Regions from separate parts of the Homo sapiens genome. Here region 2 is linked to region 1. A link means that fine-mapping ties the variant in region 1 to the plasma level of a protein whose gene starts in the linked region. Region 1 holds a variant in brackets. A gene starts in the other region. All regions are shown on their forward strands.

What was found. PIP is the chance, under the fine-mapping model, that this variant and not a neighbour inherited with it causes the effect. Protein levels are from antibody-based Olink assays in UK Biobank. Linkage for the fine-mapping came from a reference panel and not from the study's own genotypes, which makes the PIPs less certain.
Region 2: WFDC12 starts here. The variant in region 1 is fine-mapped to the plasma level of the WFDC12 protein (UK Biobank, PIP above 0.99).

The regions. Positions count from the first base shown.
Region 1 is chr1:150,829,241-150,844,799 of GRCh38, forward strand. It overlaps ARNT (aryl hydrocarbon receptor nuclear translocator), which reads right to left. Exons shown (of 22, transcript NM_001668.4): 5 at 13,184-13,228; 6 at 10,201-10,414; 7 at 7,040-7,253; 8 at 5,298-5,400; 9 at 3,094-3,159; 10 at 2,578-2,663; 11 at 664-740. Among named protein-coding and RNA genes, the nearest start is that of CTSK, 29 kb to the left of the region's middle. RefSeq lists an enhancer at 7,101-7,245 and a cis regulatory region at 7,173. The variant A/G (reference allele first, on the strand shown) is at 7,317.
Region 2 is chr20:45,115,502-45,131,060 of GRCh38, forward strand. It overlaps WFDC12 (WAP four-disulfide core domain 12), which reads right to left and starts at 8,964. Exons shown (of 3, transcript NM_080869.2): 1 at 8,868-8,964; 2 at 8,606-8,764; 3 at 7,924-8,442. The coding sequence starts at 8,946. The coding sequence ends at 8,345. It also overlaps a transcript of WFDC5 not described here. RefSeq lists an enhancer at 1-110.

The DNA of each region.
Region 1 (15,559 bases):
GATAAAAATGAGGTAAAATGATACCATTATTTACAGATGTATTTCCTATCTCCTCATGGTCTTTTGCATAGACATAAGATTCCCAGTTTTAGGACTTTCTAAACTTTCACATTTTATCCAAAAAGGAAAAAAAAATGACAATCACAATCAGACAAGGCATAAGGTCTAGCTCTGCTCCCATACATTTACACTTTACCAAGTTAGTAAAGTAAGAATAAAGTTTATTCAATCTAAAATCCACATACTGGCTATGCTGAACTCATTACTCAGGTTGATATGGTACAAGTAACCAAGAAACTTATCTATACTTATGAAAAAATCAAAATAATTCCACTTTTCTATTGTTAGTCAGGTAATGATACAATGAAAAGGATCTTTCTTCTTTTGTATAGGGGCAAAGGAAATTAACTGGAAATAGAAAATTAAGCATAGTAAAGCTAAAATTAAGACAAGGGGAAAAAGATCTCCCTCCTCTCATACTTTTCAACTTTACTTAAATCCAAGAATAGCAATGGTCACTATAAATGCCATATTCCTTCAAATTTTGAGAGTTTTATGGAATTCTTCATTTGTATTCAGAAAGTAAAAGAAAATTAACAGGAATGAGTCCTGAAGATCTGCTCTAATTGAACGGGAATATAGATGTGGAAAATTCATACTTGCCTGCAATCTGCCAATGGCCACTAGGCAAAACTTGCTTCCCTGGCCAGCCTCTGGGTCATCATCTGGGAGGGAAACACCTTCAGAAACGTGACGTTAAAAGGTTTAACGGGGACCTCCAACTCAAATGCCTTCAAAACTCAGACAAGTAAAGATTCAAAATAGACCTATTTATGGGCCAGGCACCGTGGCTGACGCCTGTAATCCCAACACTTTGGGAAGCCAAGGTGGGCGGATCACTTGAGGACCAGCCTGGCCGACACAGTGAAACCCCATCTCTACTAAAAATACAAAAATTAGCCAGGCATGGTGGCATGCACCTGTAATCCCAGCTACTTGGGAGGCTGAGGTGAGAGAATCACTTGAACCCAGGAGGCGGAGGATGCAGTGAGCCGAGATCGCACTACTGCACTCCAGCCTGGGCGACAGACAGAGTGAGACTCCCTCTCAAAAAAAAAACCAAAAAGCAAAACAAAACAAAATACATCTAGTTATGAAGAGGCTAAGCATAAAGCAATAGAGAATGATAAATAAGAATAAACAAGTATATAAAACTTACCATATATGCCAGTCATTGTTTTAAGTATTTACATATATATTAATTCCTACATTTTACCCATGTTAATTATAGTAAACTGGAAAATACAAGTCCTACCCAGAGTACTCTAAAAAACTATGCTGGCCAAATATGGCACATATGAAGACATCCATTCTATGACCATGTTATAGGCAGAAAATTTATGCTTTGCCTAATCTGTAACTTTTAAAGTTAGCAAGCAACCCAAAATGAAGTTATACCAACCATCAATAGTTATTCATGTCCCTTGGAAAAGAGAAAAACCAATGTTTTACACAGAAAGGGAAGAAGACTGCATTTCTCCCCTGTTTTTTGCATAGTTATACTCTTTTTATCCAGAAAAATAGTATTCCTTGATGCTACATAGAGGTATGAAAGATCACATACTTTAACTGTGTGGCTTATATAGTATATAGACTAAGTAGTTCAAATGTCATTACTACTTCAGTTAAATTTTTTTAAATTACATTAATTACTTTTATTGGGTTACCTGCCATATGCCAGGCACTGGGCTGGATGCTTTCCTTACATTAAATCTAATCCTCACAAAAACCCTATACAGGATGTACTAACTCTGAATTACAGATGAGAAAACTGAGCTTTATAAAGGTCAAGCAACTTACCCTAGGTGATGCCACTAATAAGTAACAATGACAGGAATCACATCCAGGTTTCTCCACATCCAAAGTTTAACCTTTTTCCAAAACACATCACCTTGCTTCTCTTTTCTCTTAGTTTCTGTCTCCCCAAAACCCCTACTTTCCAATAATACCCAGGCAGCAGGGAAGTAATAAAGTTGCTAAGATTTGGAAACTCTGACAAGCCAACTTAAAACTTTGATCCTGCAACCCAATCACCTTTCTCACATTCCTTGTTTGACCTCAAGTTCTGGTAAAGCTAATCTGCTCAAAGCTTGATTTAAAGTCTTTGCAGAGAATATCCTCTTGATAAGTTATTACAATAAAGGCATTTTCCCCTTTTCTCTCAAAGTCTTGTTCCTACTTTAGAAATCTTTCTCAAATTAACTGCATTCAATGTCTAAGTTTCTTTGCAACAAATGCTTAGAATACATATGTTCAGTATAAATTTGTTCACATAAAAACCACATTCTGTGACACAGCCAATACTGAATCATTTTCCAGCCTGAGTTATCTATCTCCTCAACTGGAATAAAAGCTCAATAATGGAAGGGAAGGATTGTACATTTTCTTTTCCTATTTTCTTTCATCTTACACAAAAGTACATTTCATATACCAGGTATATAATAAATATTAGCTTTCATGGACTCTGTGAGGAACCAACTGTACCAAGGGGAAATATTTACTATTTCACTTTCTTACCTGCTGGGGGCCAGGCCTTGATGTAGCCTGTGCAGTGGACCACCACGAAGTGAGGTTCCCCATCCTTTACAGAGCCAAGTCCATTCCTAGAAGAGTTACAGGAGTTTGAAAAAAAAAAAAAAAATCTACCCGTAAAACTCAAAGGGCAATGCTGCCTTAGTACTTTTAAGTTTATGCTCTTAGGAGTTTAGAAAACAGGATAATCATCTTTCCCACCCAAAAATGACCGCCACATTTTTACCCTTGCCAAAGTAAAGTAACCAAAAGGTATGCAGTAGGAGGAAAGTAGGTAAAATAGCATAGCGACTTCCTTAAACAGGATTTTCAAGAGAAGTTTTAGAAGTTTAGGAAAATATTGCCAGAAAAAAAGTAAGTGGGAGGTAAGGGATGTTAAGTGGGAGGTAAGGGATGCAAGTGAGAGCTGCTGAAGGAACGACTACAGTAAGACAGGTAAAAATGTGATGATCTCTGCAGGTATTTGGCCATCCCTTTGGTTTTCACCACTTAGGATCTCACCTGCATCTGTTCCTCACAAAGCTCAGCCTATTCACAGAAACTGGGTCCACAGAGCTACTGCCACACCTGTTTCAAGGAATAAAGAGATTAAAAGCAATCAGACTGCCCTATCAAAGAACTTTCCACAGTAATAGCAGAATAACATGCTCTGGATACAACCAGACATAGAAAATTGGTAATGCTACTAATAATGAAGGATAAAGATAGGTCAAGTTTAGTATTTCTAAAACTTTTAGAATTTGAAGTCAAAATGTTCCATATGTTCTTCATATGCAAACATTCTCAACATCAAGAGTTGGCAAGCTTTTTCTGTAAAGGACCAGATAGTACATATTTTCAGCTTTGCGGGCCAGAAAGTCTGTTGCAACTAGTCAACTCTAGCATTATAGCATGAAAATAGCCATAGATAATATGTAAAAATATGGGCATGGCTATGTTCCAATAAAACTTTATTTACAAATAAAGGGCTGTGGTTTGCTTACTCCTGCTCTACATTAACCACAACTTAATGTAATTGCTACAGTTCATTATTATCTTGCTCTTGCCTATGTCTTTGCATTAGCCATGTCCACATATTGGGATACTCCTGCCAATGCTACTTTCCCTCTCCCTATCCTTTAAAACAAAAATAAAACTTACATAGGGTTAATATGTGTCATGCTCTGTTCTAAATATCTTTACATATATTAATTCATCTAATCTTCATAACAACTTTATAAAGTCAGTATTAACATTATCGCCAATGTGAGATGATGAAATCAAAGCACAATGTAGTCATGTAATCATCCAAGGTTTCAGAAGATAGCATCAAAGCTAGAATTCAAATCCATAGAATATGGATTAAAACAAAATCCAGCAGTCTGGGTCTAGAAGCTACTCTAAATTACACGCTGGGTGCAGTGGTTCAGGCCTGTAATCTCAGCACTTTGGGAGGCTGACGCAGGCGAATCACTTGAGGTCAAGAGTTTGAGGCCAGCCTGGCCAACATGGTGAAACACTGTTTTACTAAAAATACAAAAATTAGCCAGCTGTGGTGGCAATCCAGCTACTCAGGAAACTGAGGCATGAGAATCGCTTGAACCCAGGAGGTAGAGGTTGTAATGACCCAAGATCATGCCACTGCACTCCAGCCTGGGCAACAGAGCAAGACTCTGTCTCAAAAAAATAAATAAATAAAAATAAAAATAAATCACTAAACCACATAATGTTCAATTTTGTGCCTCTCCAAGCAAACCTTTAATATCCTACCCATAATTTCTAGCAACTATCCTCTCAGTACAATGTAGTCAATTTCCATTATATAGCCTGAACTTTGTGACCCTGAGATGCCTTTTGTACCTGTATAGAAAGGACCACCATATTTTCTACAGAATCCTAAAACGTACAGTATATAATTTATAAACACTAAACACCTACTGAAAGACATAGGAAGTCTCAAATTTCTAACCAAAAAAAAAAAGAAGAAATGGTCTGAGTAAATGGATATTGCCTTGTGTTGTAACAGGGAAAAAGTAGAGGTTTTGTAGTCAGACTACTATGAATTAAAACAAAATCCTGTATCAAACAGTATGTAACAGTGGGAAATTCATTTCTTTTTCTTTTTCTTTTTTTTTTTTTTGAGACAGAGTTTCACTCTTTTTGCCTAGGCTGGAGTGTAATGGCACAATCTCGGCTCACTGCAACCTCCACCTCCTGGGTTCAAGCAATTGTCCTGCCTCAGCCTCCAAGTGGCTGGGATTATGGGCGCACGCCACCACGCCCGTCTAATTTTGTTGTTGTTTTTTTTTAGTAGAGATGGGGTTTCACCATGTTGGCCAGGCTGGTCTCAAACTCCTGACCTCAGGTGATCCACTCGCCTCAGCCTCCTAAAGTGCTGGGATTACAGCCTTGAGCCACTGCACCTGGCCAAGTTCATTTCTTTATATCTGTTTTTCCATCTGCAAAATGGTAACCATCAATCTTACACTACAAGGCAATTGTGAGGATAAAATAAGATGACAGATATAAAGCACCTATCATAGTGTCTGGCAAGTTCAGAAACGTTAGTTCCCTTTCCAAATACTTTATTCTGTGTTACAATCCATCTGGGTATGGAGAGTTAAATTTAATCCACTGGAGCTAATCCAACTTAACTCTGACAGAAATAAAACTCTCAGCTCTTGATCCTTCCTATACCAAATCACAATCCTCAGCTTGACACTCACCTCATTCGGCAAATAAACGATCTCCTTGAGCCCATACACATTCTCATGGAAGACTGCTGACCTTCCTTTTTCACTGTTCCAGTCTTTAGATCCAGGATACGCCCTGAAGGAAGATGTGAAGAGCAGTCTGGAGTGCATTTTTGTGTGTGGGGAAGAGGGGGAGAGATACTGAAGGCAAAGATAAGTAAGCATCCTATTCATGCCCTTAATCTCCTTGCTTATAACAGAACTGACCAAGCAGGAGATGAATTTTTTTTCAAGCCTAAAATACTTCAATTATCATCAATGAATCTCACTCTTAAGTTCAAAGGCAGCATTGAAAATAACATTGTGCAAGGAAAAGTAGGAGTGGAAAGTAGTAGTAGAAAACAAGAGGCAAGGCTATATTCTCATAGCTGATTATCTGTATACACATACAGACATACATACAGAGTAAATGTCATTGGTTGAAAAACAAGTACTTTTCTGTAGTCCCAGCTAATCAGGAGGCTGAGGCAGGAGGACTGCTTGAGGGCAGGAGTTTGAGGCTGTAGTGTGCTATGACTGTGCCTGTGAAGAGTCACTGTACTCTAGCCTCAGCAATAAAGCAAGACCTTGTCTCAAAAAAAAAAAAAAGAATAAAAAGAAAAAATTTTAAAAAGAAAAAAACCAAGTAATTTTATATGTTATAGAAACATATAGATCTGTTTGTCTTCTTTATTATACAGAAACGAAGAACAACTTTTGGGGAAAAGGAAGAACTAGAAAAATGAAATCATAAAAACATAAAGGAGGGGAAAACTGGTCAAGTGTGGTGGCTCATGCCGATAATCCCAGCCCTTTGAGAAGCCAAGATGGGAGGAGGAATGCTGAAGGCCAGGAGTTTGAGACCAGTCTGGGCAACAGACAGAACCTGTCTCTACAAAAAATTTAAAAATTGGTCAAGTGTGGTGACATGAACTACTCCTAGCTACTCAAGAAGCTGTAAGCAGGCAGATTACTGAGCCCAGAAGAGTTCAAGATTACAGTAAGCTATGATGTGCCACCGTACTCCAGCCTAGGCAAGAGAGAGACCCTGTCTCTTTTTTGGGTGGGAAAAAAGGAGGAAAACTAAAGATCAACAACACTAATATGAGTATATTGAAATTTCTTGCATTTTAACTACCAGTTTTTTTATCTGCTTCCACTTTAAATTTTTTTCTAGAGTTGCTCAAGAATAGATATGACTTGTTTCCTCTAGCCAAACTCTGGCCAAAAGACTGAACATAATAAAATAGGGGAGAAAAAAAGAACAACAGTACAGATACAAACAACAACAACAACAACAACAGAAAACACCTTATACATTGACCAATAACCATATCTATAGAATAAAAAGCTGTTATCATTGAACCTAGCACAAAGCCAAGCACCAGGAGGTAGAAAAAATACCAGATAATTATCCATACAAATGAGATAAAAACATGGATAATTCTTTTAGAACGGAAAAAAAAAAGTATTGTAGGTTTGGCTTTTACTGTTCTATTTATACCAATATTAAGATAAATGTAAAATATTATCACCAATGAAATATTTTCTAAGGCTGAGCCACAAAGTAGATAATCTCATATGGATAAAAAGAACTGACTATATTCATTAAAGTAGAAAATTCTTGAAGCCTTGCCAGAGTCAACAAACCAATTTAACAGCTAAAACATCTCTTAAGTCTCAGGAAAAAAACAAGAAAGGACTTCTCATTCATTTCCCATACACATAACTCTCACCTGTCAGGGCATTTTCTGAAGTGGAAAGCTGCTCACGAAGTTTATCCACATCATCTGGGTGCACCTGATCATAGAGTGTGCTGCCAAACCATTCAGACTGTGGCTGGTTCAAAACAGGAGTCACGGAGTCAGACACATACACCACCCTGCCTGTCTCACATGAGACAATAAACAGAAAGCCATCTGCTGCCTCCAAGATCAAATGTTTCAGTTCCTGCGCAAGAAAAAGAAATAGAAGTTAATATTTTACTCTGAAAAAACAAGTATTTCTATTCAC[A/G]GGAAGAAGTAAGACACTTCAGGCCACATGCATCTCTCCGTAAGCAACTGCTGGTTCACACCTGATCCACAGCCACAGGTTTCCACCCTAAATGTAGTTCATCGATAAGAAAGTTTTTTCTAATACATGTTTCCTCACTTTCTCTATGTCACTATCCACCTCTTCCTCTCTATCTCAGGATTCAAGAAGAATAAAAAGGCTTGGGCTAGGCACAGCGGCTCCCGCCGGTAATCCCAGCACTTTGGGAGGTCAAAGTGGGAGGGTCACTGAGTCCAGGAGTTCAAGACCAGCCTAGGCAATGGGGCGAAACTCCATCTTTACAAACAAACAAAACAAAACAAAACAAAAACAAAAACAAAACTAGCCAGGTGTGGTGGCACACGCCTGTAGTCCCAGCTACTCCGGAGGCTGAGGTGGGAGGATCACCTGAGCCTGGGAAGCAGAGGTTGCAGTGAGCCGAGATCATACCACCACACTCCAGCCTGAGCGACAGAGCAAGAGACCCTGTCTCAAAAAAAAAAAGGCTTACCATGAACAATAATTGACTTCTTAATTCCATCCTCTCTGGTCTCTTTTTAGGATCTTGCTTGACAAATATTCCCACTTTCTCTCTTTCCCTTCAGGCCTATAAAAATGATCAAGTTTTCTCAATTCTAGATAAATCTTCCCTCAGTTTGACCCACCTCATCTCTCTTTTTCAGCAGCAAGCTTATACTAAGAATAATGTTATATTCACTGGCTTTATCCTCTTACCTTTCAATTATTTCTCAATCCCACTTCACTCTCACTCTAAACTACTGTTTTCCTGTTTGGTTTGGTTTTTGTTCTGCCAGGAACAGCATACATATATTTTTAATGAGGTTACTAATGTCCTCCTAATTACCAATTCAAGTCCCTTTTCCTGGGTCTTCATCACTTTATTCAACCTCTCTGCAGAATGTGACAATGTCGTCCATCTTATCCTTTAAATTTTATTTTTCCCTACCTTCTTCTATGAGACTGTACTCCAATTTTTGCTTCCTCTTCTGTTTCAGACTTCCTTTCCTTTGTTCAAGTCTTAAATGTAGACATTTCCAAAGTTCATCTTAAGCCCTCTTTATTAATACCATACTTTCTTCCTGGGAAACCATATTCACTCTTCCCCACTACGAAATAATAACCAAGTCTATAGCCCTAGACATGACTAACGTTTTTTCCTGAGCTTTCAGCAGACTTGAATTTCAAGTATCTGTAAAATATTTATAAATATTCTACCAGCAACTCAACATCAACATCCCAAAACCTGAATCATTATTTCCCTCTTAAAAAAAAAAACCTGCCGTGCTCTTCCAATATTCTTAACAGCATCCTCCTAAGCTAGAAGCCTCAAAATCTAACTATTCTCTCACATTCCAGTGATAATTCAGTTTTATCGATTCTACTTTCCAATGCTTTGTCACTGTCCTAGTCATCTTTTACCAAAACTAATTAAGTAGTCGCCCTGCTTTCAATCAATCCTTAAAATGCTACCAGATCTAATACATTTTTTATGTCTCCCCACTGCATAAAAATTAAAATCTAAATTCTTTAACACCTAAACATTCCATCATTAGATCCCAGCCTACCTTCCTATTATCTACCAAAAACATGCTAAACCACTTGACTTTCTTTGCATAACCCAATTATTCCACACTTCTAGGTTTTTGCTCAAGTGCTTCCCAAAATCCACAACACTACTCCCCAACTCATTTTCCATATCTGCATTTTACAGGATTCATTACAGCACTTCTATTATAGAACTAGTTCTATGTTTAATTTATTTATTTACATGTCTGTTTCCACCAGAAAACCATTTGTCTCACCATTCTTTCTATTTCTCACAGCACAACACACCTGGTTTGCCCACAAAAGGTGCATAACTGGAGTCTGTTGAATACTTGCACATGTACTGTTAGAACATATTAACTATTTCAATGTATATAGCTACAAAGTATGTAGTTTTAAGTAGACCATCCTATTTGGAAAATTCTTATTCCATTTTCTCAAACTATATTCTCTCCTTCTTTCTAATCATTTGATTAAATTGGTGGCATTAAGGGAATACTTGATTGATACTGAAGTAAATTTTTTTCTTCCTTATACCTCCTACATTTTCCAAATTTTTCTGCAATGATCATGTTATTTTAATAACCAAAACAGAACATGGCTTCCTTACCCTCAGAAGTCTTCCCTAACCATCCTCACTCAAGTCTAGCCATTCTATTCACTTTAGCCATCCCTTCAGTATGTCTATCTAGTCCCACATAAAATTACTAATTAAAAAATACAATTCCTCTCTTTATGCATTTTCCTGTTATTTTCTGTGATATCCTGCCACTCACATACTTATATTCAGATGAAGTTCCTGAAAGGCAGAAAATGTTTACGCCTTCTTTTTTTCATAGTGATCACATGTAACAGAGCACATCCCTAAGCAACAATTAGACTCTCAGTTCTTCTATCACCAAAGGTGGGACAGATTCATTCTATTACTAAAACTAGAAGCTGCTTCAGGGATAAGAAATAGATTTCTTCCATCTTCTATAACCCTAAAGGCAAGAAAGAAAATTGGTTCCATGGACATAGTCATTTCCTCTGTGATTCCACTGTTCTTCTTCCATCCTATATGCTATATTCATGAGTCAAGTTCTCAAATATTAATACTTATTAGCTTATTAAATAGTTTTCACAACTCTTCTCTACTTCTCATTGTCCCAATGCTAATTAATGTTATAGCCAAGGATTGAAATTCGTTTTCCCATTGTCTGACTTCTTCCTGAAAAGCTGAATTCTTGTCCAAAAAACGAAAACTTTCAAGAGATTCACCCAGATTCCAGACTCTCTCAGAACTATAAGTCCCAGAGACCTGATCAGTGAGGAAAGACGGCTTATAGGAGCCATCAGTGGATGTGTTGCCAGTTCCCCGCAAGGACTTCATGTGAGAAACTGCCATGCGTAAGATGGTTAGCTTGTCTGGTTTTCGAGCCAGGGCACTACAGGTGGGTACCATATCTGACAGTTCTGTGATGTAGGCTGTCATCTTGTTCCGTCGCCGCCGTTCAATTTCACTGTGATTTTCCCTGCATGGAAAGAAAGAGAAGCCCCATCCAGGTGGTCACATCTGGTCATTTGGTAGCAGGGAGAGTGATATGGATACCAAGTGTGCTGCTGAAGAATGTGGTATTCAGATTTAGTGATGCTTAAGTCTCAGCAGTTAAAATAAGGTTTGCCAACCTTCTCATGCAAAGCAAGCATGAAACAGAACTAATAAGGCAGACAGAGAACAAGAAGATAATGTAATTCCCTTCCCCCTATTTCCTGGAAACTTCACATCCTTTGTAAATTACCACTCCCTCAGAACAAAAGCTGTTTTAAGAAACGACAGGTCAGGCATGGTGGCTCATGCCTGTAATCCCAGCACTTTGGGAGATGGAGGCAGGTGGATTACTTGAGGCCAGGAGTTTGAGACCGGCCTGGCCAACATGGTGAAATCCTGTCTCTACTAAAAATACAAAAATTAGCAGGGCACAGTGGCATGCATCTGTAATCCCAGCTACTTGGGAGGCTGAGACAGGAGAATCACTTGAATCTGGGAGGTGGAGGTTGCAGTGAGCTGAGATCACACCACTGCACTTCAGCCTGGGTGGCAGAGCAAGACTCCATTTCAAAAAAAAACAAAAAACAAAAAACAAGAGAAAAAAAAAGATAGTATTTTTAAATGCTGATTTTACTCACTTAAGTTCCTATGGAACATATAACCTCAGCTTGGTTAACTCCCATGCTTACTAATTCAACTATTTAAAGGCCAGAAAATAAAAGGACCAATTTTTGCCAACTCAAGTATGTGGCTCCATAGCTGATACAAGAATTGATAGTACAGATTTCCTTGGTCTATAAAATATGGTAAGCCTCTCTCTTATTTGCAACATTAAAAGGCAGAATTTGAAGATTTTGAAGTTTTATTTGGCCCATTAATGCACAAAGTCCTACCTTCTTTATCTGGGTGTGCTGCCAGTGCACTAAACTTCTTACAAGACTTAAGATACACCATCTACTAAAAGTCCCATATGGGTCCCCAGTCTGGGACGAAGTTAACTGGAGGAGTGGAATGGAGAGGAGGATGATTAAAGGTCTGACAAGACAATTTGAATCTCACCCAGGTAAATAGACCACAGCTCCAACACTGACTTCCTCAAAATTAAGACAGAAAGATATCACTGTTAACAGGAATAATCCAGCAGTTTTCCAACAGGAATTTTTAAAAGCCCATTAAGTTTCTCAGTGTCCTCCATGGGGATGCCTCAAGGAGATAATCATGCAACATGCTGCATTTCTGCTTCTACTCAAATATTTGCCTTATCTCTCTTCTTCTTTTTTTTTTTTTTTTTTTTTGAGATGGAGTCTTGCTCTGTCACCCAGGCTGGAGTACAGTGGCGGGATCTCGGCTCACTGCAACCTCCGCCTTCTGGGTTCAAGCAATTCTGCTATCTCAGCCTCCCAGGTAGCTGGGACTACAGGCGCACACCACCACGCCCAGTTTTTTTTTTTTTTATTTTTAGTAGAGACGCGGTTTCACCAAGTTGGCCAGGATATTCTCCATCTCTTGACCTCGTGATCTGCCTGCCTCGGCCTCCCAAAGTGCTAGGGTTACAAGCATGAGCCACTGCGCCCGGCCTGCTTTATCTCTTTTATTTATTTCTGTTACCACTTAAGAATTCTACTTGAACAAAAGTTCTTTGTCCAAAAAAAAAAGAAAGTAAGAAAATTAAAAATCTAACATAAATCTCTTTTTTCTGAGAAGAGCAAAGGGAGGTCAAGTAGGTAAGTGACTTTCCCCAGGCTGCTCTCTTCCCAATACAATGTTTTCTCCACCACATCATGCCAAATCCATTTTCTGAACAGTGAAAGGGTTAGTAAGAAGCTCGAGTTAAACTGGCAGCAAAATGAGTTTGTGACCCAGATTAAAGAGGAAATAGTAGAAAAAAGGGGGAATATAGTAAAAATGGGTATTGGCATCAATGATCTATTTCCTAAGTCACCCCCAAATCACAGATACTAGAAAACAGAAAAGTCTATGCATATTTCTTCTGCAGCATTTCTACATTACAAACAACAGTCTCCCAAGAGAATTCTAGAGTCTCCTTTCTAAATGGCAAAAAGGGTCTCACCACATAGGCCCATATTTAGTTACACTTTGCCTAAGACATAAAATTCTATTCTCAAACATAAAGCACTCATCTTCCTAGTATCTGACAGATTTCTGACACGTAAGTACAGAAACCTGGTCTTTTAAATAGCCACATCAAGGAAACTAAAACTTTTCTAGAAAACTACCGCAAGAAAGGATTCGGTCACCAAAGCAACACTAGTTCTGTTGTGAGAATAATCTAGGCTGTGAGTCTTCATAGGAAAATAGGTGTGAGTTTCCTAGAGGTGTGGAGTAAATGCTGAGGCCTAAATACTGGGAACTAATCACAAATACAGATATATTTATTGGTTTTCTGATAAAAAGAGTATTTCCCTGTTAAAGCACCAACTGGCACGGTTGCATTCCTTCTAAGAGCTTTTTGTTCTGTGAAACTTAGTACTGACATAAAGAGAAAAAGAAAAAAAAACTTAAAACTAATAGCAATTTCTTAAATCCCTAAGCAAAGTTCCCTCAACTCACCCACTTTCTGATGGGGGAAGCCAAAGTTCCTGTTACACTCAAACTTCTAAAAAATCTTGTCCTCTCTTGCCACAGATAAGGAAAAATACAAAGAGAAAGGGGAAGAAAAGAAAGAGTAAGAAAAAGGATAGAAAAAGCAGCATCATCTGCTTCATCATGCTAAAAGACACTGTTCTCCTACCTGGCAAGTCTCTCTTTATCCGCAGAGCTCTGCTCATCATCCGACCTAAAAATAGAATTAATGAACTAAGCTAAAATTAAAATAAAAAAGAAGGAAGGAAGGGGGGAGGGAGGAAGGGAAAAAAGGAAGGAGGGAGGGAGAGGAAATGGAGGGAGAAAAAAAAAGAAAAGGAGAAAGAAGAGAGAAAAGGATATAGAACTAAACAGATGCAGAGAAGAGAGGAGGGAAATGGAATTATAGGCAGGAACCTTGCCTGTAACTCTACAAAGCCATCTGTTAGGATAAAGAAAAAGTAACTTACAAGATAAAGGTCAACATAAAAGCAAAGCCAATATATAGTAAATTAACATGATCTAAACACAGAAAGCATTTTGCCAATCGATCTCTGTAGGGACCAAAGATATACAGAGTCTGAACAAGAACCAACCAAGGGAATTCAGGAATACCATTTTCATGCACTGCTCCCAATCTGGAAAGAAAATGATATCCACATGTGCTATTCTATAATGAAGAAATTAAAGACAGAGTACATTAAAGATGATACTATCAAACAAGTGATGACAAATATAATCTCTCTCCCTCTCACACAAACAACACATGCACGTGCCACACAATGACAAAATAACCAACCAGATTTCACTGGAGAAATTATATAAATAACTCTAAGAGGTAGGTTTCTGGCATATCTTCTATTATTGATTTGTTCCTAAAATAATTATTAACTTTGATTCGGTCCTTTTGCCATTTCTCTGCAGTATAGCCACACAGGAATGGATCAAAAGTAACAATTCCCTCTCCACTGGAGAAGGATACAAAGAACCATCACTAAATTTTTCTAGAAAACTGAGATACTGTAATGATGGGTGGCAACTGAGGAAATAGCAAGGTGTTGGCAGGCCATTGTGTCAGGAATGTGTCAATTCCATTTTAAATATATTTATATAGATAAAGAGGCCCTGAATAAAATGTCTAAGTATGACAGGTTAACAAGCTAAAAGATTATTTAGCTATTAAAAATGACAAATACAATAACCTTATCAATATATGGGAATGTTTTTATAAAATGGTCAATAGGCAGAAAATAACACAGTAACAATGAAGAAGAATGTAAAAATTTACGCATATATTCTGATGACAAGAGAAGGAGAACTGAGTGATATTCAGCAGTTTAGAGTTTTACATTCCTTGGGTTATTTCTTCTAGATAGTTCCTTAACAAACTACAAACTTCTTTTTTTTCAAAAAGTTGAGCAACTTTTGCCTCTGCCTCCCAAAGTGCTGGAATTACAGGCATAAGCCACCACTCCCGGCCTCTTACTGTCATTTTTAAAAGAACAGGACTAACCAGGCATGGTGGCTATGCATATAATCCCAAAAGTTTTTCAAGAAGTTTTCAGCTTTTAAGACCCTCTATATCCCAAGGAGGATATGTGAGGGGCACTACCTTAACACATCATATGAATGAATTCTGTTATTTAAAAAAAAGTTAAGCATCTAAAATTCCTATTTCTACTACTACTACTACTACAGATCCACAATCCCTAATCCACCTCAGTATTTCTGAATGAAATATATGCACATTAAGCAGGACAAATGAAAACCAAAATCATTCATGCGATGTTTTCATGGCTTTTTGAAATTTCATCAAGATACTGCCAATAATAACTGATGGCCTGACTTTTCAATGAAGCTTGAAAAACTATCCTCCAAATATCTATGATTAACTTCTCATTTTAGAGATGGTTCACATCCTAAAGACTTTACAAATATTTATTTCAATTAGTTTCGATAAACAAATTATTCTTCAAAAACCTCTTAACTTCACTCCTTTCCTGTTACCACTGCCACTGTAACCCAGGCCCTCATGATTTTATAGCTGTCTTATTATTTCAACAGCTTCCTATCTACCTCCCTACAGTCTAACAGTCCATCCCTTTAATCAATTCTATAACTGCTACCAGAGAAATATCCCTACAATGCATTTTATGTAATACCCTCTAATTCAAAGCCTGAGATTGCATCTCACCACTCCAGAATAGTTTTTAACTACTTCCCCTGATATTTCTAATCTCTCTACATCAACGGTTCTTAAAGTATGTTCCCGAGACCAGGAGCATCAGCAACGAACAAATACTAAGTGCTAAGTGCTCAGTTAATCACTGGATTTTGAAATAACGAATTATTCATCTTTCTGAGGTAGCTACAAACTTAATTTTCAAAAAAGAAATAATTTATTGCCTAATATTTAATAAAAACTTTCTAAAAAGAAAACTGACATTTAAGAATTTAATAAAAAAAAGTATATTTCATCATCTTGATAGGTAATTTAAACAAATTTAAGTTTTTTTCAATCAAAACTCTACTTGTCACAAAAACT
Region 2 (15,559 bases), not on the chromosome of region 1:
GGGGGTTTGCAGAGTTCTGGATGCCTAGGAAGGGAGAAGGCATTAGGGTTAGGCCAGAGCTTGCAGCCAAAGAAGGCTGGCCCAGGCTGGCATAATGAGTGAGGCCAGCCCTGGCCTCTCCTCTTGGGTCCTGTGGATGGGAGAAAGACCACCCCGCCTTTGGTGAGATCACCAGTGGCTTCTGATAGAACTGCCCTCTTCCTGGGGCTGGCTTGGCTGTTGAGGGTGGGGGAGCATGGCTTTTGGCTTGGCTAAGTTTGCTGGTCACAGCAGATGTGTGGCCACTGGAACCTCTTCTCTGGCCCTAAGGGATCCTGAGCAAAAAAATGTCATCTCATCCAGGGACCCCCACCTTAGATTTCGTATCTCTGATGTTGCCTCCTGCATTTGGTAGAAGAGAGGGAGCTGAGACTTGGCATCCTAAGGGACATCCTAAACAGAAACTCCATCGAAGTACATTCTCTCAGCCTTCTCATTTGAAAGACGAGGAAACTGTGAGATAGAGATGAGAGGGGACTGGCCCAAGGACACGCAGCTAATTCCTGACTAAGCTGGGACTTCCCACTGTGGCCTCCCCATCACCCTCATTCAGTTCCTGGGTTTTAAAAGCAGGTCAATACCTCATCTGATCCTGAGAAAGGAGGGTGATATTACAGGGCTTGTCTCACTTACCCATTCCAATCCAGGACAGCCCTGGCAGCAGGAAGTTCTTCCTTGGGTTTAATGTGAATCTCTCGTGCTGTCTTCTAAGCTATTAAGATAGGAGAGGCTCTGTCTTCTATGATCTGATGTTGCTTTTGGAATGCTGGCACCTCCTTGGAAGCTTTATTTTGGAGGACAAATATATGAGCCCTTCCTTCCTCCCTCCCTCCACCCCTCCCTCCCTCCACCCCTCCCTCCCTCTTTCTTTCTTTTTTCTTTTCTTTCTTTCTTTTTCTTTTTCTTTCTTTCCTTTTTTCATTTCTTTCTTCTTTCTTTCCTTCTTTCCTCTCTTTCTTTCCTTTCTCTTTCTTTCTTTTCTTTCTTTCTTCTTTCTTTTTCTTTCTTCTTTCTTTCCTTTTTTATTTCTTTCTTCTTTCTTTCCTTCTTTCCTCTCTTTCTTTCCTTTCTCCTTCTTTCTTTCTTTCTTTCTTTCTTTCTCTCCTTCTCCTTCTTCTTTCCTCTCTCTCTTTCTCTTTCTCTCTCTGTCTTTGACAGAATGTCGCTATGTCACCCAGGCTGGAGTGCACAGTGCCATCATGGCTCACTGAACCCTTGACCTCATGGACCCAAGTAGTCCTCCTGCCTCAGCCTCCTGAGTACCTGGGACTATAGGCATGCGCCCCAATATTTGGCTAGTTTTTATTTTTTGTAGAGATGGGGGGTCTTCCTATGTTGCCTAGGCTGGTCTCTAACTCTAGGACTCAAGTGATTCTCCCACCTTGGCCTCCCAAAGTGCTGGGATTCCAGGGGTGAGCCACTGTGCTCAGCCATGAAATGCTCTTTTTTTTTTTTTTTTTTTTTTTTTTGAGACGGAGTCTTCCTCTGTCATCCAGGCTGGAGTGCAATGGGGCAATCTCTGCTCATTGCAACCTCCGTCTCCTGGGTTCTAGCAATTCTCTGCCTCAGCCTCCCAAGTAGCTGGGACCACAGGCGCCCGCCACCATGCCTGGCTAATTTTTTGTATTTTTAGTAGAGACGGGGTTTCACCATGTTGGTCAGGCTGGTCTTAAACTCCTGAATTCAGGTGATCCACCCGCCTCGGCCTCCCAAAGTGTTGGGATTACAGGCATGAGCCACCATGCCAATGCTTTTTAAATTAAAATTATTTTGTAGACATTTTCCTGTGCTGTGAAATGTTCTCTAAACATCATGTTTTCTGATGGCTACATGCTGTTTTGTTAGATCTATATGTCAAAACATCACTTCAGTAAAGTTTTTAGGGAAAAAAGATATGCCAAAATATACACAATCAGTATCCTATTATGAAACATGGAGGTTTCCAATTTTCCACTTTCATAAATAAAGCTGTGATAACCATCTTTTTGTGTACATTTTGGAGTCACATCTCTGACTGTTTTCTTAAAGTAAATTTGTCAAAGTTAGAAATGCTAGGTCAAAAGGCACAGTCATGTTTCCAGGCGTTGGATATATCTGGTCAAATTAAATTTCAGAAAGGAAGTAAGTGAGTGTACAAGAGCCTCCACCTGCCCTGCCATAGACCTCTATTGTTTCGTCTGCCCAGCGTCTCTTCCTTTGGTGGAACCATTGCCTCCTGACTGCTGTCATTCTGGTTGGTTGCCAATCAGCAGGTACTTCTCCTATCAAAGCTGAGGGCACTGGATCCAGGTTACACCCACTGCACTCTTCTCCACCCCTAACTTGCCCACGCCTTCATTAGAGTCTTGAACAGATAAGCCAGTTCTCTAAACAGAACAGTCCAAAGCTCAGATGCTGTTGCTCACAGCCAAAGATCCTTAGTGGATATTCTTACTACATACAGGATATTAAAAAAATAAGTAAATAAAATCTTTGCTAACGGAAAACAATATTTCATTTTAATTTGTCTTCCTCTTCCTCTTAATACCCATGATGGTGAGCATTTCTTCATATTCGCATACTGACTGTATCCTTTCTCTGTGAATTGCCTGTTTTTGTATTTTGCTCATTTTTATTGGGGGTCCTTTTATTTTTGAGTTTTAAGAGCTGTTTATATATTAAGAATCTATTAACCTGTCATACACAAGGGGCAGTAGTGAACAGATGTATATTGGAGTTAGGCAGACCTAGTTTTGAATCTTGGTGCCATAGGCTCTATCTGTTTGACATTAATTTTGTAAAACCCCTGTTTATTTTTGTATACCAGTAGAGATAGAGATAATCATATACGTGTTATAGGATGGTTCTGAGAACTGAATGAGATAAACTTGATAAATGCTTTGATGCTATATTGCAAATATTTCTTTCCTCATTTTTGCTTAGTACCAAAGGATTAAATTTTGGGGTAATCAATTCAATCTTTTCATTCATATTTTCTCCTTTTATTTTTATGCTAAAAAGGCTTTTTGACTCTGATGTTAGATAAATATTCACTATATTTACTTGTTATTATTTTGTGATTTTTGAAAGACATGATAATTCTTTAATCTAGCTGAAGTTTATCTTGGTATAGAGCGTGAAATAGGAAATATCTTTTTTTTGTAAGTAATTAAGCAATTGTCCTATGATCATTTAGTGAATAATTTAAACTTTTGCCATTGATTAAGAATTAAAACTTTATCAATAACTTAAGTCTTATTGTAACAGGGGCTGTTTATGGGTTTTCATTTTTTTTCTTTTCCTTTTTTTTTTTTGAGATGGAGTCTCGCTCTGTCACCCAGGTTGGAGTGCAGTGGCATGATCTTGACTCACTGCAACCTCCACCTCTCGGGTTCAAGCAATTCTCCTGCCTCAGCCTCCTGAGTAGCTGGGATTACAGGCACATGCCACTACACCCAGCTAATTTTTGTATTTTTAGTAGAGACAGGGTTTCACCATGTTGGTCAAGCTCCTCTCAATCTCCTGACCTTGTGATCTGCCCGCTTCAGCCTCACAAAGTGCTGGGATTACAGACGTGAGCCACCGTGCCTTGCCCGTTCTTTTCTTTTGACTGTTTATTCTTATGCCAGCACAGACAAGCATGTATTGTGGGTTCAGTTCCTGACCACTGAAATAAAGAGAATATTGCAATAATATTTGGTTAGTTTTTATTTTTTGTAGAGATGCGGGGGGCGGGGGCCTTCCTATGTTGCCCAGGCTGGTCTCTAACTCCTGGACTCAAGTGATTCTCCCACCTTGGCCTCCCAAAATGCTGGGATTAAAGTGAGCCATGTGGATTTTTTGGTTTCCCAGTGTATCTAAAAGTTATGTTTGCACTATAGTGTAGTCTATTAAGTGCAAAATAGCATTTGTCTAAAATAAGTATGTACCTTAATTTAAAAATACTTTATTGCTAAAATATGCTAATAATCATGTAAGCCTTCAGTGAGTCATCATCATCTTTCTGCTGGCGGAGGGTCTTACCTTGATGTTGAGGCTGCTGAATGATCAGGGTAGTGGTTTCTGAAGGATAGGTTGACTGTGGCAATTTTAAAAAATCAGACAACTATGAAGTTTGCTGCATCCATGGACTCTTCCTTTTTTTCAACTTTCATTTTAGAATTAGGGGGTACATGTGCAGGTGTGATACAAAGGTATATTGTGAAAGATTTCTCTGTCACATATTGTGAAATACTATCAAACATGCAATGCTGTTTGATAATATTTTATACACTGTACATCCTCTTTCAAAATCAGAGTCATGGCATGGTGCAGTGGCTCATGCCTATAATCCCAGAGCTTTGGGAAGCCAAGGCAGGAGTATCACTTGAGCCCAAGAGTTTGAGACCAGCCTGGGCAATACAGTGAGGCTCTACCTTTACAAAAAATTAAAAAATTAGCTGGATGGTGGTGCATGCCTATATCCTACCCCCTCGGAAGGCTGAGGTAAGAGGATTGTTTGAGCTCAAGAGTTCAAGGTTACAGTAAGCTGTGATCATGCCACTGCACTCCAGTCTGGGCAACAGAGCAAGACCCTGTCTCTGAAAACAACAACAACAACAAACAGTTGGAATCAATTCTCTCAAACCCTGCTGTGTTATCGACTAAGTTTACATAATACTTTAAATTCTTGGTTTTGTCATTTCAGCAATGTTCACAGCATCTTTACTAGGGGTAGATTCTATCTCTCAAAACTACTTTCTTTGCCCATCCGTAAGAGGCAACACCTCATCCATTCAAGTTTTATCATAAGATTGTAGCAATTCAGTCACATCTTCAGGCTCCACTTTAATTCTAGTTCTTTTGCTATTTCCACCACATCTGCAGTGACGACTTCCTCAACTGAAGTCTTGAACCCCTCAAAGTCATTCATGAGGGTTGAAATCAACTTCTTCCATACTCCTATTCATGTTGATATTTTGACCTACTCCCATGAATCATGAATGTTCTTAATAGCAGTTAGACTGTGAGCCCTTTCCAGAAGGTTTTCAGTTTACTTTGCCCAGATCCATCAGAAGAATCACCATCTGTGGCAGCTATGAGATGTATTTCTTAAATAATGTATAGCCTTATGAGATGTATTTCTTAAATAATAAAACTTGAAAGTTAAAACTACTCCTTGATTTGCAGAATAGATGTTGTGTTAGCAGGCATGAAAATATTAATTGTCTTGTACATCTCTGTCAGAGCTCTTGGGCTATCAAATGCATTGTCAATAAGTAGAAATATTACAAAAGGAAAGTAGAAATTGTTTTTTTTTGTGAGCAGTAGGTCTTAACGGTGGGCTTAAAATATTCAGTAAACTATGCCGTAAATGGATGTGCTGTCATCCAGGCTGTGTTGTTCCACTTATAGAGCACAGGCAGAATAGATTTAGCATAATTCCTAAAGGCTCTAGGATTTTTGGAATAGTAAATGAGCATTGGCTTTAACTTAAAGTCACCAAATACACTAGTCCCTAATAAGAGAGTCAGCCTGTCCTTTGAAGCTTTGAAGCCAAGCATTGACTTCTCTCTAGCTATGAAATTCCTAAATGGCCTCTTCTTTCGATAAAAGACTGTTTCATCTACATTGAAAATCTGTTGTGTAGCGTAGCCACCTTCCTCAATTATCTTGTGTAGATCTTCTGGAGAACTTGCTGCAGCTTCTCCATCAGCACTTGCTGCTTTACTTTACACTTTTATGTTATGGAGATGGCTTCTTTCCTTAAATCTTGTGAACCGACCTCTGCTATCTTCAAACTTTTCTTACGCAGCTTCCTCACCTCTCAGCTTTCATAGAATTGAAAAAAGTTAGGGCCTTGCTCTGGATTAGGCTTTGGCTAAGGGGATGCTGTGGCTGTTTTGATTTTTTTATCCAAACCACTAACATTTTCTCCATATTAACAATAAGTCTGTTTCACTTACCATTTGTGTGTTTGCTGGAGTAGCTGTTTTAATTGCCTTCAATAACTTTTCCTTTGCATTCATAACTTGGCTAACTGGTAAAAGAGGCCTAGCTTTGGACCTTTCTTGGTTTTCAAACATGCCTTCCTCACTAAGGTTAATCATTTCTAGCTTTTTTTGATTTAAAGTGAGAGACATGACTCTTCTTTTCACTTAAACACTTAAAGGCCACTGTAAGATGATTAATTGGCCTCATTTCAGCATTGTTGTGTTCCAAGGGAGAGAAACAGAGAATGGCCGGTTGGGGGAGAAATCAGAACATATGTGACATTTATCGATCAAATTCACTGTCTTATGTGGGCACAGTTTATGGCACCCTGAGACAATTAGGAAAGTATCATCAAAGATCACTGATCACAGACCAACATAACAGATGTAATGATAATGAAAAAAATTGAAATATTGTGAATATTACCAAAATGTGACACAAAGACACATAGTGAGCACATGCTATAGGAAACATGCAGCCAATGTACTTGCTTGGTGCAGGGTTGCCACAAACCTTCAATTTGTAAAAAATGCAATGACTGCAAAGCACAATAAAACAAGGTATGCTTGTATTGTGGCTGTAATTGTTGTAGCTCCATAATATGTTTTAGTGACTGGTGGTATCCATTACCCTTCATTAGTCTACATTTTCAATTTTCCAGGTTACAAGTATTTTATTGTTCCATGTGAACCTAATGATCATTTTGTTAAGTTGCAAAAACAAACCCTTGTTTTTATCATAAAATGTTTTCAAAAATGCACAAAAGAACAGCAAATACTTTTATGGAGCCTACATACCCATCATCCAGATTCAACAATGAACCATTTTACAAGAATTCCTTCATGCATATCCCCACCCCTTTTTTGGCTGAAGTATTTTAAAGTAAATCCAACCGATCTTATACTTTACCTTTAAATACTTCAGTGTGCATCTCTAAAAACTAAGGACACTTTCTCACATAATGACAATCCTACTGTTACACCTAAGAAAATTAACTGCAGTTTCTTAACATCATCTAATATTCTATTTGCATCTTGTTTTTCTTATTGTCTCAAAAGTGACTCTATGGTTGTTGGTGCACATATTGCATTGGCTGTAATGTATCTGAAGTTTCTTTTAATCTAGAACAATCTCTCCAACTCTTTTTTATTCTCCTTTCCTCCCTCCTTCTTCTTCTTCATGCTATTGACTTGTTGAACAAAACAGACAAATTGTTCTTTAGAATGTCCCATGTTGCTTCCCTGTGATGTCTTTCATCTTCTTTGTCCTTCACATTTCCCATAGATGAATGCTAGCTGTAGAGGCTTGGTGAGGTTCATGCTCAACTGTCTTGGCAGGAGCCCTTCTTGAATGATGCTGTGTGTTTTGTGTTGCATCACCTCAGGAGGAACGGAGGTCCGCTTTACCCATTTTTAGCATTGTGGAGACAGATTAATGTGTTTTCGGTGTGTACCTGAATCCTCAAGTTGTAAACTTGTGTTTTCCCTCTTACAAACTGTAAATATACCACAGGGTGATGAAATGGCACCCTGTAAATATTCAGAAGCCATGGATAATCATTGCCAGAATCAATTATTTCATTAGGGTTTGCAAAACCCAGTGGGTTTTAATTTTAATTATATTTCAGGTATAAATTATGCTGACCAAGGTGAACACTTTGAGGAGGCTTCCTGCTTGGGGAAGAGCATATCTTTTAAAAAACATTTATTTATTTATTCTGTAGAAAAGTTTAGTCTATTTATCCAGATCTTTTAAAATGTCATTTAATAAAGTTTTAGGGTTTCCTTTCAGAAAATTTCTGTACATCTCTAGATTTATTTGTAGGTATTTTATATTTTATTCACTTTGATAATGTTGAATAGGATTTTTTTTTTTTACTATTAGGTTGTCTTAGCAGGTTTGGGCTGCTATAACAAATTACCATAGACTGGGTGGATTATAAACAGCAAATATTTATTTCTTACAGTTCTAGAGGCTGGGAAGTCCAAGATCAAGGCACCAGCAGATTCAGCATCTGGTGAGGACCAGTTTCTCTTCTCTGACAGTGCCTTCTAGCTGTGATCACACATTGCAGAAGGGCAAGGCAGCTCTTTGGGGTCTCTTATAAGGGCACTGGTTTCATTCATGAGGGGTCCATTCATGAGCATTAGGGAGGAGCACCAGGTAGAGAGGGAAAGTACCGTCCCTGGGGTCTGGACTTTTTGTGACTCTTCCCTCTTTTTGGGGAAAAGGACTTCAAGCTCAGGTTTTCTTTGGTGGGGTTGGGTATTGCTTCTTCCATATTCCAAGTCTCAGGACCCTCAGGGGCAGGTGCCAAGTGAGAGTGACCCCCAGAGGTAGAAAGGACCCAGCATCATTTCTGAGGACACCTGGTAGAGGAGGAGCCTGGACACTTGGCCTCCCATCCTGGCTCAGGGTATGGCCTTGACACATCTTCATCCTTGTTTCCTCCTTTGGACAATGGAGATGTTCAGACTAGGTGGTCTCTGAGGGCCCTGCCAGCTTTAGCCATCCCTCCCCACACCAGCTAAAGGGACTAATTCCTCCGAACTTTCATGGGTCAGATAGAGGCAGGGAAGGGACAGCCCCAGCCCTGGGAGGCAGGTCTCCTTACCTTCTTCCAGTTCCTTCACAGGAATCACACACTTGAAGCCACAGTGCAGGTAACAACACTTCCTTTCCCCCAGACAGTCCTGGTCTGTGTGACACTGGGGAGGATCGGACTTGAAGCAGCGTACGTTGTCAGCTGGGCAAACCCCTGCTTTCTCTATACCTAGTGGAGGAAGCCACAAGGTGATATGAGAACTCCAGCCCCAGAGGGCCCCTCAGGACCTCTCCCCAGCCCAGCCCCACCCAGCTCCACCATGTCTGCTCACCCTCTTTAACTCCTTCCACAGCCACCAGGGTCACAAGAACGAGAGACACCATGAGGACCAAGAAGCTGCTGGACCCCATGTTGCCAGGCAGGTGCTTGGCTGGGAGCTGGGCTGAGCCTGGCTTTATAGTGTTCCTGCTGGGCATGCCAGTGGGTGGAGCTGAAGGCTCAAAATGGCAAGGGAGGCTGCACTTCCCAGCTCTATTTGGAAATGGCCCCTTCTGAGGAGGGACTTGGGGCTTTCCCTAAGGCTCTGCACTGGAATAGATGAAGAAATCCAAGAGCGACCCTCGTTCTTCACACGAGGAGAAGAAATGGACACGTGATTGACCATTAGGCGCCACCAGGGCCAAACTATCTTATGGAAGGAGGAAAAGAAGCACAGAAAGGGCATGAAATTACTCAAGTTCACACACGAGGCAGTGGCAGGGCCAGACTTCCTCAACTCCACCGTGTTCTCTATCAGTCCCTCTTCATGCCTGATTCACCTGGGACCAAAATCTTCCCTCCTTCCTGTGCTGCCCCGGACTTGTTCTCAGTTCTCACCTCACCCCAAGGAAGAATCTGAATGGCAGTGCTTAAAATGTCTGTCCTGAACATTCACTCTCAGCCTTGCGCTCCAGCACCGTGTGCTCCTGCCCCCCGCCAATCTCATGTGGCCTGGAGGAAAGCAGATTTTGGACCTGTCACCAGCTGTGTGACTTTGAAAGCAGCTTCACCTTTCTAAGCCTCCGTTTCCTCATTCATACAATGAGCATAATAATTATACTGTATCATCTTCATAGGATTTGTTTTCCCTCCTCTGCCCCTGCATCCCCCAAATTCCTGGATTTGGAAGAAGACATGGACGTGTGTGCGTGTGTGTGTGTGTGTGTGTGTGTGTGTGTGTGTGACCAGGCTTTTGGGGTCCTTTCTTTGAATGAGTACTAAAGGGAGGAAAATCCTTCCTGTTGGAAAAGTTGCAGATATAAGCCCAGAAACTCCAGAAATTTGGTCCTGGCCCTGGTGAGAGAGAAATTCTGAGAAGATAAATCTAAGATGCTGATAAAAAGAGATGAGAGATGGACAGGGAGTAATTTAGAGGATATCTAGTCCTTCACTAAACTTTTTCCTGAGATCAGCCCCACTCATACCCAGGGTTATGTTACCACCCAATACATTCACCTTTCTGCCTAAGCTGGTCTGAATTGGATTTCTGTCATTTACTAACAGGACCCCTGAGTAATGCAAAGATTTGGGTTTGGGGTGTTCCACATCCTGAAGTGTGGAAGGGACTGAGTTGGGGTTAAGTGGAGGCAGGGAGGATACCTCCATTCCTGGAAGTGAGCCTACTCCTTATTAGGTGGTGAATCTTTGGTTACAATCTCACCAGTCATATCACTGGACTCAGATCATTTGGATACCAGGGATGGAATCTGGGAAGTTCATAAACAAATACTAGAATGTTGGAATGTATTGGCTATTTCCTCCTCCACCTTTTTATTATGAACTTTTTAAACATACAGAAAAATTGAAATAACAGAACAATGATACTTGTATACCTACAACTGGATTTAACAATTATTAATAGTTTGGGATATTTTAGAATACCTATAGCTACATTTGTTGAAATATTTGAAATGAAATTGAATACATTATGTTCCTATTTCCTAAATACATCAGCATGCAAATTCTAAGAATAAGGATATTCTTCAATATAATCACAAAGCCATTATCATATCTAAGATAATTAATAGTTTCTGCATGTCATCTCATAGCCAGTTCATATTTGTTTCTCCGGTTCTCCCCAAAATGTCATTTGTAATTGACTGTTGATGATACTTCTTTAAAAAAAGTATTGTAAAATAAATCCTACATATGAAAGAATGTAATCAACATTCTATACCTTTTGAAAAAGAATAATAAACACCTATGAACCTATCAATTTAGAATAGGACATTACCATCCCTACTTCAGAGGTAACCACTATCTTGAACTTTCTGTTAATCATCCTCATGTTTTCCTTTAAAGTTTTGCTCTCTTGCTATGGCTTGCTTAGTGATACGTGTTGTTTAATTTCGTGTAAGCGTAATTATGGCCTAAGTATTCTTTTGTATTTTGCATGCTTTGCTCAACACCGTGTTTTTTTAAAAAATTGTGGTAAGAAATATATACTATAAGACATGACCTCTTAACATATTTTTAAGTGCATACTAACAGTATTGTTAATTGTGGGCACAGTGTCATACAGTAGGTCTCTAGAACTTTTTCATCTTGCATGACTGAAACCCACTGAATAGCAACTCCCTATTCCCCCCACCCCCAGACCCTTGGAACCACCATTCTGTTTTCTGCTTCTATAAGTGACTACTTTAGACACTTCATAAAAGTGGAATTATGCCATATTTGTCCTTTTGTGACTGGCTTATTTTGCTTAGCATAATGTCCTTGAGGTTCACCCATGTTGTAGCATGAGATAGACTTTTCTTCTTTTTTATGGCTGAATAATATTCCATGGTATGCATATATATGTACATGTATATAATCTTTTTCCTTCCCTCATTTATCTGTCAATGGGTCAATGCACATTTAGGTTTCCATTTCTTGGCTATTGTGAATATTGCAGCAATGAACTTGCAGGTGCAAATATCTCTTTGGGATCCTGATTTAAATTCTTTTGGATAAATACCCAGAAGGGGGATTGCTGGATCATGTGATAGCTCTATTTTTAATTTTTTGAAGAACTTCCATACTGTTTTCCGTAGTGGCTATACTCCTTTAAATTCTCACTGACAGTGCACAAGGGTTCCAAATTCTCCACATTCTCACCGGTACTTGTTTTCTTTTTCTTTTCTTTTTAAAATAAAAGCCATCCTAACAGGTATGAGGTGATCTTATGGTTTGATTTTCATTTTCCTGATGATTAGACATGTTGAGTATCTTTTCACATACCTGTTGGCCATTTGTATATCTTCTTTGGAGAAATGTCTGTTTAAGTCTTATTCACTTTTAATTGGGTCTTTATATTTATATGTGTGTGTATATATATATATATATGCATATGTACACACACATATATATAATGAAAAAGAAAAGAAATAAGTATTAGAATGGGAGACGAGAAAAGCCATTGTTTGCAAATGATGCAATAATAAAAACACAAAAGAAACTACAGATACATCATGAGTTAGACAATTTTTCAAGATTAGCTGACACAAAAATCAATATATAAAAGTCAGCTGCTTTCTATACACTAGAAATATTGGTTAGAAAAATGTAATACGTTAAAAGCAATAACATGTAAAATATTTAGTAATAAAGGCAACCTGTGAGATGGGAAAAATATTTGCAAACTACCTACCAGATAAGGGGTTAATTTTCAAAATATATAAAGAACTGCAACTCAATAGCAAAAATATGTTTACATATATATATACATATATACATAGCAAAAATATGTTTATATATGTATATATATAAATACATTTAGGCTTACATTTAGGTTTCCTAGAAACCTAGACTGTCTAGGAAGCAAGCCCCATAAGGAACTTCTCATATTCATATTATAAGAAGGTAAAATTGCAGGGGACAATGTTCCTGTTTTGTAGTAGTAAACTACCTTCTCAAAAGGTGGTTATTTTGTCCCCAGGGGACTTTGGCAATGTCTGGAGACATATTTGATTGTCACAACTGGGACAGATGTGCTTCTCACATCCAGTGTCTAGAGGCTGAGGTTGCTGCTAAATATCTAACAATGCACAAGACAGCTTTTCACAACAAACAATGATCTGTCTCCAAGTGCCAATAGTATTGATGTTGAGAAACGCTGCTGTCCTGCCTCACTGACTAATAGCTGTGCATGGCCTCAGAACACCTCAATGTAGGCTGAAGCGAGTAATGATGGGAGTGTCTGCTGGGAGTATCCCATGCTTAGGAGTGCTGATCCTTGGCTCACTGGTTTCACCCAGTAAAGGCATTCCTTAGCCCATGCCATGTGACCTTGTGGAATTCATCCCATGTTCTGCTGAATCAGGTTAATAAAGTTCCCTTTTAATTCTAGTTAGCTAAGAGTTTTTCTCATGAAAGGATGTTGAATTTTTATCAAATGCCTTTTCTTCATCAATTGAAATAAATATATGGATTGTCTCTTCAATCTGTTATTTTGTGAATTACATTAACCAGATTTCACATTCATTGTCTTTTTTGGGCATCATTTATTTATGTGCTTCAAGAAAGTGGAAAGCCTTGAACCAAAATGGCGGAGTCTAAGACAGGGAATGAAAGGGAAGATATATTTCTCATAAACGTGGAATATATATTCCTGAAAATCATTAGGTTACAGAGTTTTGCTCACTACAAATAATAGGGCTTCTGGAAAAAATAGAGTTGAAGTAGAACATTCAATATTTGTGCAGTCTCATAAGTAATACATCAAACAAACAGAACCCACACCCAATAAAAACATGACCACAGTGTTAAACATCTTCAGTTCCTAATAAAGAAATTATGTAGTAAATGTAGCACTTTACTTTGACAAAAGATGGGGAGTTTGCTTGGTAAGTGGGTATGGTGAAATACTGTGGCTTTTGAGGTATGTACAAAAGGTGGAATGAAGGACATCATCATTCTTGGGACTAAATGTTGTTATACTGGAGGGTCATTGTCGTCAATCTTTTACTTCTGTACTGGCTTAAAACAGCAATCCGCTTCGTTGATTTGCCAGTTCCTCCCTTTTGTAAGGAAGCTGTATAACTCTAAATGAAACTGGATAACTGCAAAGTTCTATGCTGATGCTCTTGACATTAAAATCTTGATCTTTGGCTGGGCGTGGTGGCTCACGCCTGTACTCCCAGAACTTTGGGAGGCCAAGCCGGGCGGATCACTTGAGGTCAGGAGTTCAAGACAAGCCAGCCAACATGGTGAAACACTGTCTCCACTGAAAATACAAAAATTAGCTGGGTGTGGTAGTACATGCCTGTAATCCCAGCTACTTGGGAGGCTGAGGCATGAGAATCATTTGAATCCAGGAGGCAGAGGTTGCAGCGAGCTGAGATCACACCACTGCACTCCAGCCTGGACAACAGAGCGAGACTTTGTCTCAAAAAAACAAAAAACAAAACAAAACAAAAAAACTTGACCTTTAATCCACTACAATTGTTTATCAATATCACTTGAAGCTGATAGTAACTGATGTGTTAGGCTCACTAGCGGTCTCATCTCTGACGGAGTGCAACATTTAGCTTATTGCTGTGGTGAATAGCATATGCTCTCATTTATTCAAAAATATTTTATTATTTCAAACTTCTCAGTATTTAAGACATTTCTTTTATTTATTTATTTTTACATTTTTATTAATTTATTTTTTTAGATGGAGTCTCCCTTTGTCACCCAGGCTGGAGTGCAGTGGTGCAATCTCTGCTCACTGCAACCTCTGCTTCCTGGGTTCAAGAGATTCTCCTGCCTCAAGCTCCCAAGTAGCTGGGGCTACAAGCTGGCTAACTTTTGTATTTTTAGTAGAGATGGGGTTTCACCATCTTGGCTAGTCTGCTCTCAAACTCCTGATCTCAGGTGATCCACCCCCGTCAGCCTCCCAAAGTGCTGGGAATACAGGCATGAGCCACAATGCCTGGCCTTCAGGCATTTCTTTTAAAATCATGTTTCAGATTCTTGTTTCCAGGACATTGAACACAGTATTAAATACTTCTATCAAGAAGAGGATAGAACTCAGGATAACAGCACATCACGCACTTGGTAGGGCAATGACTATAGGTAAACTGAGATAAGAGGGAGGAGATGAAGTGTTTGTTATTTTGTGTGTCACTCAAGAGATACCATGTTCAATATTTTTGCATTCGATTTGTTTTATATGACAGGACAAGGCATAGTCACCTTATGAAAAACTGTATTAACCCAATTTTACATGTTAGTGATTTAATTCCTTATTTATCTACCATGTATGAACATATTCTGCTTGTTAAAGCACTTGCTTCAGCAGGAGAGACTCGTGGGTGTGTGTGTGTGTGTGTGTGTCTGTGTGTGTGTATATCTTTATATTAATGAGAGGTGACATCACAGTAATCTTTGCCTTGACAGTGTGCCTGACTGAATAGTATAAGCTGAATTAATGCCCTTGTTAGAAATTGTGGGATCCCAAAATATTTAATGCCTAAAAATCAGGAAATGATCATCTGAACCCCTTCTCCACCTTCCACTGAGCCAGACAAAGGTGCAAATGCTTCCTTAAAGGAAGATCAACCAGGAAGAAGTTATGCCTATTCTTTAGCTACTTTTTCCCTAGTTTTAAAGATATGAAATTCTATTTAAAGTATTATCACAATAATATATGTACACAGTATAAAATGTAAAGTGTAAAACCAGGTTTACAATGGGAATCTCCTACATTGCTCCTATTTACCTTGATTCCTGATACCCAGAGGTCCTGATACCAGAGGTAAACACTTTTAGCTCTTCTAGCTGTTTCTAATATTTATCTCCATGTTTCTAAATAACATTCTGATGTATTATTAATGTTCTTACATTTGTATTCTAAATTGTGTATTATATAATTTTCTTAAATTTCTGAAAAATTTAAATTTGGATTTAAAAAAATTATTTTCTTGTGGTAAGAACACTTAGCATGAGATCTACCCTCGTAACACCTTTTTAAGTGTGTAGTACCATATTAACTCTAGGCACTATGTTGTACAGCAGATC